6 linked regions of the Homo sapiens genome follow. The protein of the gene in region 1 purifies or fractionates together with the protein of each later gene. This does not show direct contact. Each region holds a gene or a part of one and is shown on either strand. Other genes may lie near its edges. The genes, in order: ALCAM, COX5A, RAB35, TSPAN15, NIPSNAP3A and UGGT1.

The links.
Region 2: the proteins of ALCAM (region 1) and COX5A fractionate together in Homo sapiens (co-fractionation; one large-scale study listed by BioGRID). This does not show direct contact.
Region 3: the proteins of ALCAM (region 1) and RAB35 purify together in Homo sapiens (affinity purification with mass spectrometry; one large-scale study listed by BioGRID and IntAct). This does not show direct contact.
Region 4: the proteins of ALCAM (region 1) and TSPAN15 purify together in Homo sapiens (co-immunoprecipitation; one large-scale study listed by IntAct). This does not show direct contact.
Region 5: the proteins of ALCAM (region 1) and NIPSNAP3A fractionate together in Homo sapiens (co-fractionation; one large-scale study listed by BioGRID). This does not show direct contact.
Region 6: the proteins of ALCAM (region 1) and UGGT1 fractionate together in Homo sapiens (co-fractionation; one large-scale study listed by BioGRID). This does not show direct contact.

Annotation. Positions count from the first base shown.
Region 1 is NC_000003.12:105,530,909-105,534,408, reverse strand, and holds part of ALCAM (CD166 antigen isoform 1 precursor), read right to left. Parts: intron 2,408-3,500; coding exon 2,343-2,407; intron 807-2,342; coding exon 719-806; intron 1-718. UniProt on the Homo sapiens protein: Cell adhesion molecule that mediates both heterotypic cell-cell contacts via its interaction with CD6, as well as homotypic cell-cell contacts. Promotes T-cell activation and proliferation via its interactions with CD6.
Region 2 is NC_000015.10:74,924,574-74,928,073, forward strand, and holds part of COX5A (cytochrome c oxidase subunit 5A, mitochondrial precursor), read right to left. Parts: intron 2,315-3,500; coding exon 2,193-2,314; intron 1-2,192. UniProt on the Homo sapiens protein: Component of the cytochrome c oxidase, the last enzyme in the mitochondrial electron transport chain which drives oxidative phosphorylation.
Region 3 is NC_000012.12:120,103,254-120,106,753, reverse strand, and holds part of RAB35 (ras-related protein Rab-35), read left to right. Parts: intron 1-2,804; coding exon 2,805-2,928; intron 2,929-3,500. UniProt on the Homo sapiens protein: The small GTPases Rab are key regulators of intracellular membrane trafficking, from the formation of transport vesicles to their fusion with membranes.
Region 4 is NC_000010.11:69,485,965-69,489,464, reverse strand, and holds part of TSPAN15 (tetraspanin-15), read right to left. Parts: intron 1-3,500. UniProt on the Homo sapiens protein: Part of TspanC8 subgroup, composed of 6 members that interact with the transmembrane metalloprotease ADAM10.
Region 5 is NC_000009.12:104,754,183-104,757,682, forward strand, and holds part of NIPSNAP3A (protein NipSnap homolog 3A), read left to right. Parts: intron 1-368; coding exon 369-518; intron 519-3,500.
Region 6 is NC_000002.12:128,174,700-128,178,199, forward strand, and holds part of UGGT1 (UDP-glucose:glycoprotein glucosyltransferase 1 precursor), read left to right. Parts: intron 1-73; coding exon 74-159; intron 160-2,114; coding exon 2,115-2,199; intron 2,200-3,132; coding exon 3,133-3,221; intron 3,222-3,500. UniProt on the Homo sapiens protein: Recognizes glycoproteins with minor folding defects. Reglucosylates single N-glycans near the misfolded part of the protein, thus providing quality control for protein folding in the endoplasmic reticulum.

The sequences.
Region 1 (3,500 bases):
CTGCTCTTGATTCTTCTGTACAAGGGCTGAAAATGATGTTTAAAAAATCATGTATTAATTTAGTACATACTTAAAGTAACAGAGCATAAGAGTCATAGCTCAAAAGAGGGCAACATATTTAGATCCTGAATAGTTTAAAGCGGGGGTCTCCAACCTCCAGGACTGGTATGGGTGCAAACAGCAGGAGGTGAGCGGTGGGCAACCACAAGAAGCTTCTTTTGTATTTACAGCCACTCCCCATGGCTCACATTACTGACTGAGCTCCTTCTCCTGTCAGATCAGTTGTGGAATTACGTTCTTACAGGAATGCAAATCCTGCTGTGAACTGCACATATGAGGGATCTAGGTTGCATACTTGTTATGAGAATCTGATGCCTGATGATCTGTCACTGTGTCCCATCACCCCTAGATGGGACTGTCTAGTTCCAGAAAAACAAGCTCTGGGCTCTCACTGATTCTACATTATGGTGAGTTGCATAATTATTTTGTTATATATCACTATGTAATAATAATAGAAATAAAGTACACAATAAACCTAATGCCTGTGAATCACCCTGAAACCATCCCCCCACCCTGATCCAAAGAAAAATTGTCTTCCATGAAACCAGTTCCTGGTGCCAAAAAGGTTGGAGACCACTGGTTTAAAGAATACCTAGAACAAAGAAAGTCAGAACAGGTCCTCTGAATGTACTCCCTGTCCTCCTGCCCTCACACCCACCTCCTTCAAGGGGATGTAGCACTTTTCCATTCCTGTACCATGTGATATTGCCATCTGGATAACTGTCTTCTGAAATGCAGTCACCCAACTGCAAAATAAAAAGGCAATGTTATTACCTTGGTTCAATCAGGGGCTGTCAATTTGGAAACTCCAGAAACTCAGGCAATGCAGAGTTATTCCAAGGGTTTCTTGACCCGTTTATTTTCCAACACTGACCAAAGACTGAATACATGCTCTCTGGTATAAAAACAATGTCTTTTTAAGACCTTTTTAACAATTTATTTGAAAATATACTTTTGACGATTTTTAAATGTGCAATAGATGGTGTCACTATTATAAAATCACATTCATTTGAAAGCATTGCCAAATTCATTTTGACACTATTCATTTTTAACATTAACCAAATAACATTACTCTATTAACACTGACTATTACCATGAATCATAGATCTTCATACGGAAGAATAATTTGGTGTTAAAATGGGGCTGTGTCTCCAGTTTCATACTACATATATTTCAAGAGGATATACATTATCATGCTCTATAATTCCCCTCACTTTCTTTAAATGTATTTTAACTTTAATATTTGGTATTCATCAAATAATTTTATGCAGTAAAATTTAATATGACACAAAGAATGTAGGACTTGGGTTTCCATCTCCCAACAAAGGAAAACTTTGGTATTTTAGTTACATTATTATTCAATATGGAACTCCAACTTTGTCCCCCACTTTAATACAGCTTCCCTTCACATATCTGCTAATGTGTTGTTCGAATCTGATCTCACCTCTTTACTTCAATCTTTCAGTAGCATAATTTGCCAACAGAATAAAGTCCAAACTCCCTATTTAGTATGTAAGATTTGTCATGATCCAACTTTTCTTTGCCTCTCCAGATTCATCTCTTTCTATCCTTTCTTGTTTTCTGTCTTGGCACCCAGTTTCATCAATGCCAAAATTTGCTGTTTCCCAAACACACCGTTCTCTTTCACATCCTATTATTTCATATTGTTGGAAAGCCATTTCTACCTTTGGCTTGGTGAAAATCTATTCATCTTTCATCATTCTCTCTATATATTTTTTCTACACAGGGTCTGGCTCTGTCGTCCACAATGGAATGCAATGGTGCAAACATGGCTCACTGCAGCTTTGACCTCCTAGGCTCAAGCAGTCCTCCTTACCAAGCATCAGCCTACCAAGCAGCTGGGACCACAGGCATGTACCGCTATGCCCAGCTAACTTTTAAATATTTTTTATAAACAAGGTCTTGCCATGCTGTACATTCCTGGGCTCAAGTGATCCTCCCACCTTAACCTCCCAAACTGTTGGGCTTACAGGCATGAATCATGCTAACTGGCTTCATCCTTCTATTAAACAATCCATTAATTCAAATGAGAAAGACTCCTCTTTTCAGAAATGACCCCACCTTCCTTGATGTCCTCATGGTTACCTGAGACTGTGAGCATGTTGTACCCTCTGTGCCTTGTAGATAATTTCTGATTGGTAGCTGCAACACTGTCATCTCCACAAGAGCAAAGCCTTTCTTACTTGTCTTGGAATGTAAGGTCAGAAGAAGGCACTTACAACACTGGCTAAATAAAGGTATTAATCAAAAACAATTCTTACCTTTTTTAGCTGCTCTGTTTCGAGAAACAGTGCTTTGCTTACAATTTCAGGTTTAGATGGTTGCTCTAAAGTTAAGCAGAGAAAGATTTTAAGTACATATGTAAGAAAAACGGGACTTCTGTGATTTGATTCACAGCAAAAACAATTCATTTACTCAATACAGAAGAATAAGCAACAGAATAAAAATAGATTTCGTTATACAATCTGGATTTGGGGAATCTATAGGTCTACCCCTTCAAATATTTATTATCTTAAATATTATTTTCAGTGCTTGTAATTCCTTTGAATAAAATATAAATAATGCTTTCTGAATGCTTTATAAATAGTGAATATGGATTTGATAGTGAAACAGGGGCTAATGTCCTATATAGGATATATTGTCTCTAATTGATTACCATGAGCACTTCTTACTTATCAGTAACTTCCAGCTCATTAACTGAAGACATTAATTTACATGAACCAGAATCACAAAGATACTTGTTTAAAATTCAGATTTCTGAGCCCTATTTGGCCTACTGAATCAGAATTCCTGAAAAAAAAAAATCCCATAACTCTACATTTTAAACAAGTTTCTAGGGGATTCTCAGTCACCATAAAGTTTGAGAAACACTGTTCTAAAATCATGGGAAATAGAAAGCAAGTTAAGGAATTTATAAACCCAAATTTCTGAAATATCTCTAACTTTACCTCTTAAGCCAAGTCACAATATGAAAGTGTAAATGTGAGAAAATCTTTCAAATGTGGAACCTGAGATGATGGACAAAAACATTTTAAATATAGGTAGTTCTAAGAAACATAAATTTTAATAAAGACTTCAGGAGCAATTGATTAAAAGTTGCAGCAACAATTTATTATTTAAACTGATTTTAAGTTATTTTATTCTTAGCTGCTATTTTCTATCAATGATGGATTTTGCGCTTTTTAAATAGCTCCAACAATTAGTTTACACAAAAAGTATATTGCCTCATTGTCACTGATGTTTGTGAGTCTCATGGACCAAAATTATTCTATTTTCTTATAAGCAAATGTATTTAAACAATCAGCTACTTTTTCTTTTATAGTCTTATTGTTTACCACCTAATACTTTTAATTTTGATTACCAAACTAAACTAAATTGGCTTTTGTATAATTATTACTCAATTTGGAATTCAGTTATTA
Region 2 (3,500 bases), on another chromosome or scaffold:
GTTCAAGGTAGGCTTTTGAAATACCTTGAGAATAACTGCAATTGGACTAAATCCAGAACATCTTAAAGTCTAGAATTACTGGAAAAGAAGGTAGTGATGACAGAATTTTGTGAAGGCAATTAGACATGCCCAGCAGGCAACACGAATAATTAAGTTAACGGGAAAAGTTTTTTCATTTGCCTCCAATTTGAGACCTTAACTGAATTAACTACCAGTGCTGAATGGATTGATAGCCTACAGAACCCTTAATTATCTTACCCATTATAGATAAAGTAATGTCACACTTTTGCTGTTAACGGACCTTAAGTTTCTTTCTTACAGACCACAGTATCTTTTCATGGAGAGCTGTACTTTGAGAATACATATGTCCAGGGCTGGAGACTTTTCACTGTAATATATAGTTACACCTGTGCTGTCACAAGGTTCCTTAGGAACGAATAAGAAGTCAAAAGAACTAAGAAAGTGCCGGCCGGGCGTGGTGGCTCACGCCTGTAATCCCAGCACTTTGGGAGGCTGAGGCGGGCGGATCAACTGAGGTCAGGAGTTTGAGATCAGCCTGACCAACATGGAGAAACCCCGTCTCTTAAAATACAAAATTAGCCTGTAATCCCAGCTACTCGGGAGGCTGAGGCAGAAGAATTGCTTGAACCCAGGAGACCTCGGAGGTTGCAGTGAGCTGAGATCACGCAATGATTGCACTCCAGCTTGGGCGACAGAGTGAGACTCTGTCTCGAAAAAATAAATAAACTCAGAAATTATGACCAAATAAGAAGGAGGAAAATTAGTATATATCCTCCTATGTTTTCATATAATGTATATATATATTTTTTGAGATGGAGTTTCTCTCTCTTGTTGCCCAGGCTGGAGTGCAATGGTGCCATCTTGGCTCACTGTAACCTCTGCCTCCCGGGTTCAAGCAATTCCCCTGCCTCAGCCTCCCGACTAGCTGGGATTACAGGCATGCACCCCCACGCCCGGCTAATTTTTTATTTTCAGTAGAGATGGGGTTTCTCCATCTTGGTCAGGCTGGTCTCGAACTCTTGACCTCAGGTGATCCACCTGCCTCAGTCTCCCAAAGTGCTGGGATTACAGGCGTGAGCCACCGTGCCCAGCCGACACAAATATGTTTAAAGTCAAACACATTTCTACAGTATCAACAGTTGTGTAGTATAACCAGTTCTGGGAAGCTCCCTCTTAAGAATTCCTAACATTTCGTATGACAAATAGCAAGAAGATGAATACACTTTGTAGTTAAATCTTTATATATCCTTTATTATTTCCTTGATAAATTCCTTTCTTTTTTTTTTTAGAGACGGAGTTTCTCTCTTGTTGCCCAGGCTGGAGTGCAATGGTGCGATCTCAGCTCACTGCTACCTCCGCCTCCCGGGTTCAAGCAATTCTCCTGCCTGGGCCTCCCAAGTAGCTGGGATTACAGGCATGTGCCACCATGCCCAGCTAATTTTTTTTTTTTTTTTTTTTTTTTTGAGACAGAGTCTTGCTCTGTCACCCAGGCTGGAGTGCAGTGGCGCTGTCTTGGCTCACTGCAAGCTTTGCCTCCCGGGTTCACGCCATTCTCCCGCCTCAGCCTCCTGAGTAGCTGGGACTACAGGCGCCTGCCACCACACCCGGCTAATTTTTTTGTATTTTTAGTAGAGACAGGGTTTCACCGTGTTAGCCAGGATGGTTTCGATCTCCTGACCTCGTGATCCGCCCGCCTCGGCCTCCCAAAGAGCTGGGATTACAGGCGTGAGCCACCGCGCCTGGCCTAATTTTTATATTTTTAGTAGAGACAGGGTTTCACCATGTTGGCCAGGCTGGTCTCAAACTCCTGACATTGCATGATCCACCCGCCTTAGCCTCCTAAAGTGCTGGGATTACAGGCATGAGCCATCACACACGGCCAAGATAAATTCTTAAAAAAGAAAGAAAAAAAAAAAAGAGAGAAAAAAGAAAAAAGATAAATTCTTAAATGGAATTGCTGAACAAAAGTGTATCATGTACAATTTGTAAGGCCTTGAATAAATGCTGCCAAAGTAGCCTCTAGAAAGATTTTAACTGCAATGTACATTCCTTCTAGTTATATAAGGACTCATTTTAGGCATTTTAACAAATTCAAAAATACAGAATATTCTGATACCTCAGCAATAGCCCACTCATTTACAGAACAATTTTAGCATTATTATTTCACTGACCTTAACAACCTCTAGGATACGAACTGTACTAGCAAAATCATTTAACCGTCTGCATGCCCGCAAAGCAGCATCAATGATTTTGGGCTCTGGAACCATATCATAGGTAACAAGTGTGTTTATCCCTGCAAAATTAAAAAGAAGGGCCATGTCAACCTCGAAGAGCCTCACTTAAACTATGAGTTATTTATATTTTTACTGAATCACTGATGTATGATCTTATCTGTCTGGGTCTCCATTCTCTTACCTATAAAATGAGAGAAACCTACCTTTAACAAATTCTAGATAATAAGATCACAGTGGATCTCCCTTAGTGAATCAGTGGAAAGAAAGAACTATGCAACAGCACGCAGATTGAAGGAAAAAATCCTGAGTTTTTTTTTTCCCCTTTGAGAACAAGAGGGTCATTTTCAACTCCTAACTTTTTTTTTGGAGATGGAGTCTTGCTCTGTCACCCAGGCTGGAGTACAGTGGTGCCACCTCAGCTTACTGCAACCGCTGCCACCTGGGTTCAAGTGATTCTCCTGCCTCAGCCTACCAAGTAGCTGGGATTACAGGCGGGTGCCACCAAGCCCAGCTAATTTTAGTATTTTTAGTAGAGACGGGGTTTCAGCATCTTGGCCTGGCTGGCCTTGAACTCCTGACCTCGTGATCCACCTGCCTCGGCCTCCCAAAGTGCTGGGATTACAGGCATGAGCCACCACATCCGGCCCTCCTATCTTTAACTCTTAGTACAATGAACACATTTTGGATGCTTTAAAAGAGATTCAAGGCTGGGCTCAGGTGGATCACCTGAGGTCAGGGGTTCAAGACCAGCCTGGTCAACATGGAGAAACCCTGTCTCTATTAAAGATACAAAATTGGCCGGGCGTGGTGGCACATGCCTGTAATTCCAGCTACTCTCGAGGCTGAGGCAGGAGAATCACTTGAACCCAGGTGGTGGAGGTTGCAGTGAGCTGAGATCGCGCCATTGCACTCTAGCCTGGGCAATAAGAGAGAAACTCCATCTCAAACAAAACAAAACAAACAAACAAAAAAACCAAAATAAAAGAGATTCAACTGGAAAACAGCCTAAAAACAGCCAGAGAAATGCGTAGAGTTAATGAAGCCTAAATGAGGACATTAAGGAGATATTATAGAGAAACATTAGTACACAGACTCATAAACATTCAACCAGAAAATGATTGGGCATGATTACTTTCAGATCTGCACAAAATGACACATAATAAAATTTAAGATTCTCTTAATGGGAATACATAATTGTTCTTTTTATTACTTCTACTCCAGATTGTTCAGTAAGAATTCTATTGG
Region 3 (3,500 bases), on another chromosome or scaffold:
AGTTGGGTGTGGCGGCATGTGCCTGTAATCCCGGCTACTCAGGAGGCTGAGGCAGGAGAATCGCTTGAACCAGGGAGTTGGTTGCAGTGAGCCGAGATCTTGTCACAGCACTCCAGCCTGGCGACAGAGTGAGACTCCGTCTCAAAAAAAAAAAAAAAAAAAGAAAAAGAAAGTGATTCCATAGCTGATGTCTCTTGGTGGAGAAGTGGGTTTTGCCCCCTTTGTTTCCTTGACACTGTCCCTGCAATCTCACTAGTGGTGTGGTGTTAGAAAGAGATGGCTGCTCTGTGTGACCTTAGCCAGTTCATTTGTAAAATAGAAGCCTCAGTTCATGTGTAAAGTAGAAATCATAATGGTCCTTTCCCCATGGGGTTGTTATAGGATGACCTGAGATAGTGCAGGTTGCAGTGCCTGGGACTAAGTAATTGCTCAATAAATACCAGCTATTTGTTGCGACTGGCTGTTAACCTTCTGTTTAAGAATGATAGCTGATTAACAGCCTCTAATTATGCTAAAAAATGTTCCTCTTCCTCCTTAATGGCCTCCTCCCTCCCCATCCCAATCTGTGTTCAGTGCTTGGAGGGCTTGTTGTTGCAATCTCTTCCCACCTTTCCATTTCTACGACCAGCATCTCAGTTTACTGTTGGTTCTACCTGGAAGCATTACGGCAACCCCTACCCACCCTGAACCGCTCATGTGTGTGTCTGGTAGGGTCTTTTCTCTGTTTAAAAACCTCAGTGGCCCCTCTCACCTGCACAGAGTTTACAGTAAGATTTCTTCACTTGGACACTGTTGACCCTTTGGGCCCTGTGATTTTTTTTTTTTTTTTTTTTTTTTGAGACGGAGTCTCGCTCTGTCGCCCAGGCTGGAGTGCGGTGGTGTGATCTTGGCTCACTGCAAGCTCCGCCTCCCGGGTTCACGCCATTCTCCTGCCTCCCAAGTAGCTGGGACCACAGGTGCCCGCCACCACGCCTGGCTAATTTTTTGTATTTTTAGTAGAGACGGGGTTTTACCATGTGAGCCAGGATGGTCTTGATCTCCTGACCTCGTGATCTGCCCACCTCGGCCTCCCAGAGTGCTGGGATTACAGGCGTGAGCCAGCGCGCCGGGTCTGGGCCCTGTGATTTTTGTTGTGGGGCTATCCTGCGTGTCGAAGGATGTTGAGCAGCATCCCTGGCCTCCACCCACTAAATGCCAGCAACACTTCCCTCCCCCTGCTGTGACAACCAAAAATGCCTCCAGACATTGCTGAGTGTCCTTTGGAGGGACAGTCATCCCGGCTGAGAACCACTGCGCTCGTAGTCTGTTTTCAGTTCGCCTTTCTGGCTTCCTCCTACCCCCTGGTCATTCTTTTGTTCTTTGGCTTGCTTGGTTCGTTAGCCACCAGCTGTTTCTGGGGAGCCTAACTGTGCTAGGCAGTGGGCTGCACTCCTTGGCGTTCCCCTGGCTGGAAGACCCCGGGTGCTGGCCGCTTTTCTGAATGTGTTCTGGTTGCGTATCATCCTCAGCTATTTGCTTTTGAGTGGGATGTCGTTCCCCTACCTAATCTCAACCTTTGAAGTCTTACCTGTTCTTTCAAGCTAGGCCCAGATGTGACGTCCTCCCTGAAGCCTGCCTTGTTCCCCACCCCACCTTGGAATTTGACCTTTCCTACGCCCTTGCCACATTTCACATAATTGTGTGTGTGTGTGGTGTCTCCTGCACTGTTATAGCATAAGCCCCAAATGGAGTGAGAAGCTGTGCTCTTCCTAGTGTCAGGCTTTGGAAAGCTGGACTGGGCAATTACACCGGCTAGAAATTCTCCTCAAATCCATCTTTCAGGCCGGGCACGGTGGCTTGTGCCTGTAATCCCAGCACTTTGGGAGGCTGAGGCAGGCGGATCACTTGAGGTCAGGAGTTTGAGACCAGCCTGGGCAACATGGTGAAACCCCGTCTGTACTAAAAACACAAAAATTAGCCGGGCGTGGTGGCGCATGCCTGTAGTCCCAGCTACTCAGGAGGCTGAGGTGGGAGGATTATCAGACCCTGGGGGAAGGTCAAGGGTGCAATCCCACTTCACTCCAGCCTGGGCGACAGAATGAGACGCTGTCCCCCCCCCACCAAAAAAAATCCATTTTTCCCACAGATGCTGCAAGAGAGCTATTTAAAATGCAGCAGCTCATGCCACTGATTAAAACCCTTTGGTGCCTCCCCAGCACACACGAGAGAAAGTCCACGTTCTTGGAAGTGGCACACAGGTCCAAGATCTGGCCTCGCCACTTTCTGCCTGCCTTGGGCGGCAGGCTTGACCTCATGTGACCGCCCCCACTCACGGCTGTTTTTGCTACTGTCTCCCCTGCCTGGAGCAGTGGCTTTCAGACTGCAGCTCATGACCTATTTGTGTGTTTGGAAGTGAATTTTGAGGGCCCTAAATTTTTTTTGACTTGAATAGAAAAGAAAAACCCAGAGTGCCCGTAGGTCTACCATTCTCAGACATAGCTGGTGTGTCCCCATCTAGCCACTCTAAAGGAGCCTGTCCCACTCCCGCCAGTCCCATCCCGTGTTATTTCCTATGTGTCACTTTTCACTCTCGGAAATTGTCCTCTTTGTTTGTTTGCTTGCATCCTGTCTCCCTCCTTCACTTGTGTGTGGAGGGGCCTTGTGAACAAGGATGTTCAGGGCTGTGTCCCTGGGACCTAGAATGTACCAGGCACATGTAATGAGTCGGGAGGGTGGGGGAGCCTGGGGGTGTGTTGTGTGCAGCGTGGGGCTCAGGGCCTGGGAAGATACCGCGCTGGGCCTCGTTAACTGCCCTGTGTGTGCAGGCAGCTACATCACCACGATCGGAGTGGATTTCAAGATCCGGACCGTGGAGATCAACGGGGAGAAGGTGAAGCTGCAGATCTGGGACACAGCGGGGCAGGAGCGCTTCCGCACCATCACCTCCACGTGAGTCCACACGCCCACTCCCACCCAACCCGCGCCACTGACCTGTGGACACAGTTGAGCGACCGGTGCCTGGTCATGGTGGAAATGTCACTGGTGGGTCCCTGAGGCTGTCGGGAAGTGAGCCTGTTGTTGGCTGTAGTAGGTGGCGTTTGGCTGCACCCTTCCTGGTCCTGAAGATGTGAGGGGGGTGCTGTGGGGGAGTCGCTGAGCACCCTGGCTGGAGTCTGGCCGGACAGTGGCCATGTTCTATCTCCTTGGAGAGTCAGCCGACCCTCCGGCCCACTGTGCCGTCACCTTACAGAGAGAGCAGAATAGCATTTGCCTCGCTAGGGGGTTGCGAAGTGCCTTGCCCACCCAGGACTTAGTCGCTGACAATTCCTCTTGGTAGGTGTCAGTTATGGCAGCTGGAGTTGGCCTGTGCAGGCTCCCGTCACCTGCACTGATGCCTTGGAAGTGACGCTGTCTAGAGACGAACACGGTGCATGTCAGCAGGCCCTTCCCTACCCTTAAAGCTGTTCCTGGGAAATCCGGCCGCCCACCGGTTGCCCACCTTTGTGGCTGAGCTGCAGGCC
Region 4 (3,500 bases), on another chromosome or scaffold:
TACACCTGTCTTACTTTAATCTCTTAATCCTGTTATCTTCGTAAGCTGGGGATGTATGTCACCTTACGGCCACTACGATAATTGTGTTAACTGTACAAGTTGATTTTAAAACATGTGTGTTTGAACAATATGAAATCAGTGCACCTTGAAAAAGAACAGAATAACAGCGATTTTCAGGGAACAAGGGAAGACAACCATAAGGTCTGACTGCCTGCGGGGTTGGGCAAAAAGAGCCATATTTTTCTTCTTGCAGACAGCCTATAAACGGACATGCAAGTAGGGAAGATATCGCTAAATTCTTTTCCTAGCAAGGAATATTGATATTAACACTCTGGGAAAAGAACTGCATTCCTAGGGGGAGGTCTATAAACGGCCGCTCTGGGAGTGTCTCTCTTATGCAGTTGAGATAAGGACTGAAATACACCCTGGTCTCCTGCAGTACCCTCAGGATTGGGAAACTCCACCCTGGTAAATTTGAGTTCAGACTGGTTCTCTGCTCTCGAACCCTGTTTTCTGTTGTTTAAGATGTTTATCAAGACAATATGTGCACCACTGAAGGTAGACCCTTATCAGTAATTCTGCTTTTGCCCTTTGCCTTGTGATCTTTGCTTTTGCCCTTTGCCTTGTGATCTTTGTTGGACCCTTATGAGGAGTTTCTGATTTTTCCCTTAGAAGCATGTGATCTTTGTTTTCCTTTTTGCCCTTTGAAGCATGTGATCTTTGTGACCTACTCCCTGTTCTTGCACCCCCTCCCCTTTTGAAATCCTTAATAAAACTTGCTGGCTTTAAGGCTCAGGTGGGCATCATGGTCCTACTGATAATGTGACGTCACCCCCAGCGGCCCAGCTGTAAAATTCCTCTCTTTGTACTCTTTCTCTTTATTTCTCAGCTGGCTGACACTTATGGAAAATAGAAAGAACCTATGGTGAAATATTGGGGGTGGGTTCCCCCAATACCTAATGACTTGTTCTGACTTTTCATAAGTAGATACTCAGAGTTACCAGGGCCCATGGCACTGGAGACTGAACTTGTTACATTGTGGCTCAGAGAAATCCTCTTGATCAGGGAAAAATGGAATTGGGAAATCACCTCCTCCTGGAAGCTGACCTTGATTGCTCCTCACCTTTTTCTCCATCATACACTGCCCTTCCTACCATCATCAACAGCCAGGCCGCTCCTCCCCCATCCCCGCCACTGGCCTGACTCCTGTTTTACAAAATCATATCACATTAGAGTTGGAAGGGATATTATTTTTCTTTTTGTGATATTTTCCCCTTGATTATAAAAAAAAATTGAGAGCCAAGGAAAAATATAAAGGGGAGGAGAAAAATCACCCTAGTCTCATCCCTCAGAGGAAATATGAGTTCATATGCTGATATTTCCATTCCTTTAAGTCTTTTTGTAGACCTATTTTTTTCATTGTAGCGATCTTACTGCATTTATAATTTTGTATCTCATTTTTTAAGTTTTCAAGATGACGAATCATGGCTTGAGCCTCCAAACAGCGGAGAGGCGTCAGTGAGGACCCTTCCTGGGCTGCATACCAAGGCCCTACCCATGAGGGGACACCACCCAAGGGGAAGGAGCACCCTTCACGGACTACAGCATCTGCAGGGTCTGGGGATGATGAGAAATTGTCAGGCCTGACCTCAGGCCCACGGAAACCCAAGCTGTGAGCACTGAAGGGCCCCTGGATGTTCCGCCAGCCAAAGCCTTCATCTCAGCCCAGCTCCATCACTTGAAAGAAGGAGGTGATGTTCTGTTGACCTACAGGGCACTGGAAAATGACAAATCAGATGGCCTCTGCAGCAATGCACTAGAAACCAGAACTGCTGCCCATCATTGGAGGATAGTTTATGAAGGCCGTGGACGCTGCTGACCACAAACTGGACCTGGGCTCCAGCCAGGAAAGTGCTAACCCTGGAAAGCCTCAGGGCGGCCGGGAGCTCTGCTGGCTGCACAGAGAGGCAGCCCCATGGGCAAATGGAATAAAGATCTCTCCCCTCACAGCTGCTGAAAAGTAAACCAGCATCCTGGATCTGCCAGCTCAGAAGAGAGGCTCTGACAAATAGAAAAGAGGGACAGGGAGGGGCAGGTAGCAAGTCAGGACTGGGAAGCATTCCTGAGGCACCTCTGCCTTGCTGTGTGCTCTCGGGGGAATTCTTAACTCCTGTGTGCCTCCATGACTCCATTGATAGGATGGCCACTTGCCCCTGTATGAGTGGAGAAGCCACTTCAGTCTGACTGTCAAGCCATGCCTAGCAGCAGAAACCATGCCCGGGGTCACGGGCTGGTGGAGATTCCTCCTTATATCCAGGAGTCTGTTTAGTTGGCCACAAACTGGACCTGGGCTCCAGCCAGGAAAGCACTAACCCGTAGCCCCTGGAAAGCCGCAGGCTGGCCAGGAGCTCTGGTGGCTGCACAGAAAGGCAGCCCCATGGGCAAATGGAATAAAGATCTCTCCCCTCAAGGCTGCTGGAAAGTGAACCAGCATGCTGGATCTGCCAGCTCAGAAGAGAGGCTCTGATAAGCAGAAAAGAGGCAAAGGGAGGGGCAGGTAGAAAAGAGGAAAAGGGAGAAGCAGCCTCATGGGCAAATGGAATAAAGCCCCTTTCCTGGGGCTCATAAAACAGGAAGACCTCTGGATTCCAGGTTTGTAGACTTGCCTGTGGTTAGGTCCCACTGCAGGAGGCCCCAGCAGAACTGGTGTGGTCCCTGCTCCCACCTGGGCTGGAATCACAGGCACTCCCATGAACATTTTCACAGGGCCAGATCCTGGGCCATCTGAGAGGTCTGCACAACCCAGGGTGTGGGACAGCACCTGCTGCCTTAAGAGCAACTGCTGAAAAGAAAGATAATTTGGCTGGGCACAGGGGTGCATGACTGTAGTCCCAGCTACTTGGGAGGCTAAAGCCGGAGGATCACTTGAGCCCAGGGGTTCGAGGCTGCAGTGAGCTATGACTGCACCACTGCTCCAGCCTGGGTGGCAGAGTGAGACCCTGTCTCAAAAAAATAAACAAACATTATTTTTAAAAAAAAAGATAACTTGGCTCACAGCTCTGACGCATGTCCCAGCAGCAACTGTCCAGATGCACCAGGACCAAGCTGTCTGGGGTAGGGAGGGGTACAGGCCAGGCAGTGGACACAGAGAATGGGGCTTCTGCAAACATGTCCTGCTCCTCAAGCCCCACCTATGGCAGCAATGCAGGATGAGGACAAGGAAGAAGATTATGGGAGGAAAGATGGAGCCCTGGGTTGGAGTCAGCCCTGCTCCACCACCAGCTTCTTGTGGGGCCTTGACCACTATGTGCCAGAACCGTGCCCAGTCCTTCACAGGCATTCTCTCATCAGATCTGTGAGCTAGGTGTCCCCTAATAATCCAAGAGGCCAAGTAACTCGCCCAAGGTGGCACAGCTAGTATGAGGTGCGTACATCCTGCCTGAAGGAGCTGGAGCCGGGAGCCACGAGAACCTTTCTGGCTCTAAGGGGCCCGGATTCTG
Region 5 (3,500 bases), on another chromosome or scaffold:
CTTTTATTCTTTTATTTTCTAAAAGCATAGACTTTTGCAGCTCAAAATTCTATATCATTATACATTCTCAACAGTTTTTTAACAAATGTTATAGATTAAAAATATTTCAGATAATAGTTATAATAGCTTCCAGTTCTTTTTCTTTGTCATCTGTATGATTAAGCATAACAACTCACTCTTAAACATGGGCAAGGACTTTCTAAGCATAAAAGCAGAGAGTGCAAATATAATAAACATGTCTACATAATATGTATGCATGTCTGATCCTCCAAATCTGTGTGTGTAGATAGTGAAAGACTATTCACTGAGAAACGTGATTGGATATTGCTTGAATGTTTTCTGAAAAATTCTTTTTCTCCCTATTCCAGGAGTCTATGAACTGGCCACTTTTCAGATGAAACCTGGTGGGCCAGCTCTGTGGGGTGATGCATTTAAAAGGGCAGTTCATGCTCATGTCAATCTAGGCTACACAAAACTAGTTGGAGTGTTCCACACAGAGTACGGAGCACTCAACAGAGGTACAATTGTCCATTTCTTCTTATATGAAATTGTAATATATATTGTGACCTAAGTTCCTTGGGTCAGGTTCTTTCTCATTATAGAGTATGTTTTATTATTTATTGCCAAATGTTTAGTTTTTTGTAATTTTTAAAATTGAGAAAATCTGTTTTACATCTTATTTATTTAGAATGTTAACTTATGAAACCTTCAAATGCTGAATAGCTGTTTTCCCTGATACATCAAAATGATTAAATTTTTTAAACTGAAGGAACCTCGGCTGGGCACGGTAGCTCAGGCCTGTAATCCCAGCACTTTTGGAGGCTGAGGGGGTGGATCACCTGAGGTCAGGAGTTCGAGACCAGCCTGGCAAACATGGTGAAACCCCGTCTCTAGTAAAAATAGAACAAATTAGCCAGGCATGGTGGTGGGGGCCTGTAATCCCAGCTATTCTGGAGGCTGAGGCAGGAGAATCACTTGAATCCAGGAAGCGGAGGTTGCAATGAGCCAAAATCGTGCCATCGCACTCCAGCCTGGGTGACAAGAGCAAAACTCCATCTCAAAAAAAAAAAAATGAAGGAACCTCAAGAAATAGTCTGTTACTTTCATCATTTCTTTTTCCTCTGAATGTACTTTTATTGATTTTTTAAAAATAATATTATTTGGGGTAGGGAGATTATCTCTAAGCAAAAAAGTAATATATGTTTTGTATAAATATGAAAACCCCCCTCATAAAAATTTACCCATTTTCCACCAGTTTTATATATATCTATATAGGGAGATATAGTAAATATGTATATATATTGAGGTAAATTTATATATGGATATAAATTTATTTAATAAAACACATACTTGGGGTATTTAACTTGTAATGTTGAAAAACATTTCAATCAGAATTTCAAGATTTTTTGTGGCAAATTCAGAAAAACATTTGTAAAGTTTATCTGAAAGGATAAAAGAGCTGATGAGGTAGCTCATACCTGTAATTCCAGCGCTTTTGGGAGGCTGAGGCTGGTGGATTGCTTAAGCCCAGGAGTTCACGACTAGCCTGGGCAACACAGCTTGTCTCTACAAAAAAAATTTTAAGAATTAGTTGGGCATGGTGGCAAACACCTGTAGTCCTAGCTACTTGGGAGGCTGAGGTGGGAGGATTGCTTGAGCCAGGAGTTCAAGGCTACAGTAAGCTATGATTGCACCACTGCACTCCAACCCCTGAACGACATAGTGAGACCCTGTCTCTTAAAAAAAAAAAGTAACGAAGAAAGGATAAATGTCTAAGAATAGCTAACAAATATTTGAAAGACTCATCATAATATCCTGTTGCCTTTCTATTATCTCTTTATGTCCAATGGACATCTCAAACCTAATATACCCATCTTTATGCAGAAATTCAACTTCTTGTAATAATCTATCATAAGAAAATAGAATATATAAAAACAGATGTATATTCAGGTTGGAAAATACATGGAGGAGAAACTGTTATGAAAATTATTAGATGCCTATCTCACACCATATGCGAAAATAAAGTCAAGCTGGATTGTATATTTTAATGAAAAAAATTTAATTCATAAAATTGGTAAAACAAAATGTAGATGAATTTATTTAATAATGTGGATTGGGACTATATTTGTAAGCCAAAAGCAAATGAAGAAACTATGAAGAAAAAAAAATCAACTTATGATTTTATTATACAAAGGCTCAAACTATCTGGATGCCTGAAAATCACCATAAATGAAATTCAAAAGCAAAAATAAAAATAAAAATTTATGCAAAAGTAGACATGCACATGGCTACTAAATATATATTAAAGAAAATGCATATTAAAACAATAATGAGATGCCATTTCTTTACCTTATAAAAGGTATACTTACATGGATATAGTATTAGGTCAGGAAAAAATAAGTACTCAGATACTGTGTAGGGTTCATATTAGCTTAATCTTCCCCCAAAATTTGACAATAAAAATAAAAGCCTTATTTTTATTGTTTTTGCCAGTATTACTTCTAGAAAATATGCCTGGGTGTGTATGTGTATAGGTGTGCTAAATTATACAGAAAAGAAATTTGAAAGTATATAACATACATAGTAGTCATATTTCAGTGAGATAAATGGTTAAGTCTCTATGTTAATATTCTTTTTTTTTTTTTTTTTTTGAGATGGAGCCTCGCTCTGTGGAGTGCAGGTACGATCTCAGCTCCCTGCAACCTCCGCCTCCTTGGTTCAGGCGGTTCTCCTGCCTCAGCCTCCCAAGTAGCTGGGATTACAGCTGTGTGCCACCATGCCCAGCTAATTTTTGTATTTTTAGTAGAGACAGGATTTCACCAGGCTGGTCTCAAACTCCTGACCACAGGTGATCCGCCCGCCTCGGCCTCCCAAAGTGGTGGGATAAGAGGCCTGAGCCACTACACCTAGCCTCTACCTTAATTTTCTATACTGCACATATTAAGTTTTATTTTTTTAAAAACTACAGAAAATGTGTGTTCATACACTTTTTAATCTTAAATTCATTCTCAGTGTTAGGAGAATTGGTAATCAGTACATCATTTCTGGAGGACAGTGTATACTATATACACTATATGTAAGTACATATATATAAGACATGCTCTTTGGTTCTGTCAACTTAAATTCTACTTTATATTAAGGAAATAATCAGATTCAGACTGCCTGGGTTTGAATCCCAGGTACACTACTTACTTTTTGACTTTGGGTAAGTAAACCTCACCATACCTTAGTTTTTTCATCTATAAAATGATAGATTATTATGAGGACCTAGATTATTATGAGGATTAAATGAGTTAATACATTAAAATGCTTAAAACTAGGCCTGACACATAGTTATCATTCAATAAATGTCAGTAGTTGTCATCGAAAGTATTATTATAAACACATAGTTGTGCTCAAATGAAGTTTATGTTAATATTGTTTACATTAAAGAAACATTGGAAATGTAGTATGACCTTCTTTATGTAATACATACGTAATACAGAAATCGATATACATGT
Region 6 (3,500 bases), on another chromosome or scaffold:
GAAGTAACTGTTCCTCAGAAATAACATTTTGGTGTTTTGAAGAGAGCTAACTGGACTTTTCTTCTTGTCCTAGGGCTACTTTCAGCTGAAAGCCAACCCAGGAGCTTGGATCCTCAGACTTAGGAAGGGACGCTCTGAAGATATTTATAGAATTTACAGGTAGGAGTAAGTGATGCAGTTACATTATCCCAGAACTTTTAGAAATGAGCATTAGCTCTAATTGAATACTACCCTGGCAGTTAGCCAGGCAACATGAATTTAATTTGCAGTTGTATGTGATGAAACAGTGGTTTTTCCAGGAAATTAAATATGGAAGAATTGTTAGAATAGAATTAGATAATAAGAGGTATAGATGCTAATGAGTATAGTCAGGCTTTATTCTTTAATTATTCCTTTGTGCTAACAATATCCCAGAATCAAATCATTCTATCAGTGTGATGCGGCTCATAGATAGGCAGATGAGAAACTTGAAGAAAGGAGAAAAGAAAGAAAGAACAGCCACACTTTTCTGCCCAGAGAGTGTATGTGTTGACCCTGAGTGATTTGCAAATGCACAGTACATGGAAGCTTTGGTCTTGAAGCTGTGCTGTTAGTGCTGGTATTCCTTGGTCTGTGGTGGCATAGTAAGAACATTCCCTCTATAGCCAGCTTTTACCTTAAGGTTTACTGCACATATTTATTAGTTTAAAAATAATTATGTTGCCTTTAAAAAAGTTTGATATAAATTCTGCTTAACACAATTTAAATTAGTTTTAAACTGTGTGAAGAGGCTTCCCGTCAGGTTGTGTAGGGGATGATTTCCATTAGGGCACATTTGAAGCACTCTGTAGTATGTCCTTGCCTTAATTAGCTCCGTAGCGACACACATGAAACAGTGGATTAGTGCCTGGTTCTTACCCAGGAAATAGAAGAATTCTGTATTATAATAACACCATTGTAAACAGTAGAAGGTTTTTTCCCACATAACATTTTCCTCAGATAAGGTTTTACAAAATTTGGGATGCACTTCCGAACTCCTTCCCTTTTGGATGCCCTGGCCCTTGCCAGCCCTCCCCTTCCCAGGAGCATGGTGCCCCCTCTTCCTAGCTGTTCAGGGCCCCACCCCCATTAGAATCTTCCTTTGCCTGAGAACCCTACTCTCTGCTAGATGACAGCAAATGCAGTGAATTCATGTTGTAATTATGACTTTCTGCACCTTGAAATTTGGTGACTGGAAATTTTAGGCATTGCTGTTGATTAGTAGGGAAACATACATTTAATTTTTCTTCCTCTGCTCCTGTCTGCCTGCAAATAGAATTTGTTACAGTTTTTCTGGTAGCGTATAGACACCAGGTTGAGTACAGGGCCTATTGTTGACTGATTGTTGCCTCCGGCAGAAAGAGCGAGCAGATTTCCTTTACAACACTATTCCAGTTAAAGAGTAGTGGCCGGGAGTGATGGGTGATGGCTCACGCCTGTAATCCCAACACTTTGGGAGGCCGAGGAGGGTGGATCACTTAAGGTCAGGAGTTTGAGACCAGCCTAGCCACTATGGTGAAACCCTGTCTCTACTAAAATACAAAAATTAGCCAGGCGTGGTGGTGGGTGCCTGTAAACTCAGCTACCTGAAGGCTGAAGCAGGAGAATCACTTGAACCCCGGAGGTGGAGGTTGCATTGAGCCGAGATTGCTCTACTGCACTCCAGGGCAACAGAGCAAAACTCTGTCTCAAAAAAAAAAAAAAAAAAAAAAAAGAGCGGAGGCAGTGTGGTTCCAATAATGGTTCAGGGGGCCTGTTCCCTGCATTCCTTTATCGAAGGCTCTGTGCTTGGCTCAGAGCTTGTGAACACAGGCGGTTGTTTAGTACTCACCATGTGGTTACCACACATGGGTGCCTCTCACTACGTGATGGGTAATTTGCAAGAGGACTCACAAAGGAGGTTTGGGCATGCACCTTATATAAAGAGAGGTTTCAACACGTGCTTCTGTGCAGCTCGAAGGAGCTTAAGGAGCAAGAAGATAGCTGGATCTGGAAAACTCCTTTATGAGAAGGATGATGGACTCAGATGCTCTGAGAGCATTTGCTGCCTTTTGAGAATTGTGCCTTGTAATATTGATCTTTCTTTTCTCGCAAAGCCACGATGGCACTGATTCTCCCCCTGATGCTGATGAGGTGGTTATCGTCCTCAACAACTTCAAAAGCAAAATTATTAAAGTGAAGGTGAGTTTGGTAAAAGTAGTGGCATTCTGTTATTGGACAGCTGTCATTTAAAAATATGTATCTTGGAACCAGCCCAAGAGTCTCTTTGGAATTTGCTATGGCAATTATAGGGATACTGCTTTAAGGCAAAATGTCTTTGTAACTGTGAGTTTGTGGCTTCCCTCAACTGAAAGATTGTACCTTTTGGGTAATCTCGGTGTGCAGAACATGTCCCATCTTATATAAAATATTCTCATAGATGCTATGTTGTTTATATAGCCACAATTCATAGTGTTGTTGATGATTCTTTTCTCAATATTGGGGGAACTGGCAATGGAAATTTTCAACAATAATAAAATGATAGTCCTATTTAATTTCTTTTGACTTGTACTTTCCGTTCTCTGAATGTTGAAGCTCTTAGTGCCTTAAATTCAAGTACAGTATATTCTTGAAGAAAGAATCATTACACACAGTGAAACCTAAAATAGGCCATCCATTGTTGAGAAGAAAAATGGTCACTGTACTGCCAAGAAGAAACCCCTGTTTGTGCTAGTGAATCCTGAAAACTGGTCATAACATGAAATACCTCCCTCCCAACAGCTAGAGCCCCCAGCAGCCACACTCTTCCCTGGAACTAGCTGTTGACTCATTGAATCGTGCTTCTGGTTTCACTGCACAGTTGAGTTTGCGGCTCTTTGCCTATGTTGCAAGCTGAAAATGGGGTTCATCTAATTAAAAGAGGTTGCTGTCTCCTCACATAAGGTTATGATGTGAATGTCCTGGCGAAGATACTTCTATTGAATCCTTCTAGACTCTGGGTGGGGTTGTGCCTGTTTGTGAGAGAATTGATTGATAATTCCCTATTGATGACAGGCTCACAGTGTATATCCAGTGAGAGGCAGTTTTATGCCTGTGAGACATACTGGGAGTAAGGTTTATCACATTTGATTGCAGGTTCAGAAGAAGGCAGATATGGTGAACGAAGACTTGCTGAGTGATGGAACGAGTGAGAATGAATCTGGATTTTGGGATTCCTTCAAATGGTAAGTTGACATTGTAAGAGTTATGTTTTTAAGGAAAAACTGAGATATAAGCACCATCCATCCCTCCTTTTTGCATCTTGTGATTCTGTCTGGGCCTTTCACATTCTACTTTGTGCAGCTACATCTCACACTTATATTTGGCATAGATGAGTATTTTCCACTCGATTGATCCAAAAGAGGTTCATGTCTCCTAGTGGGGAAGTTACTTCTGCTCCATACTTTGTGACTCTCATTGCCTGTACCTGCTCTTTGGAAATTTGACTGCTCCCTGCTCAGTTT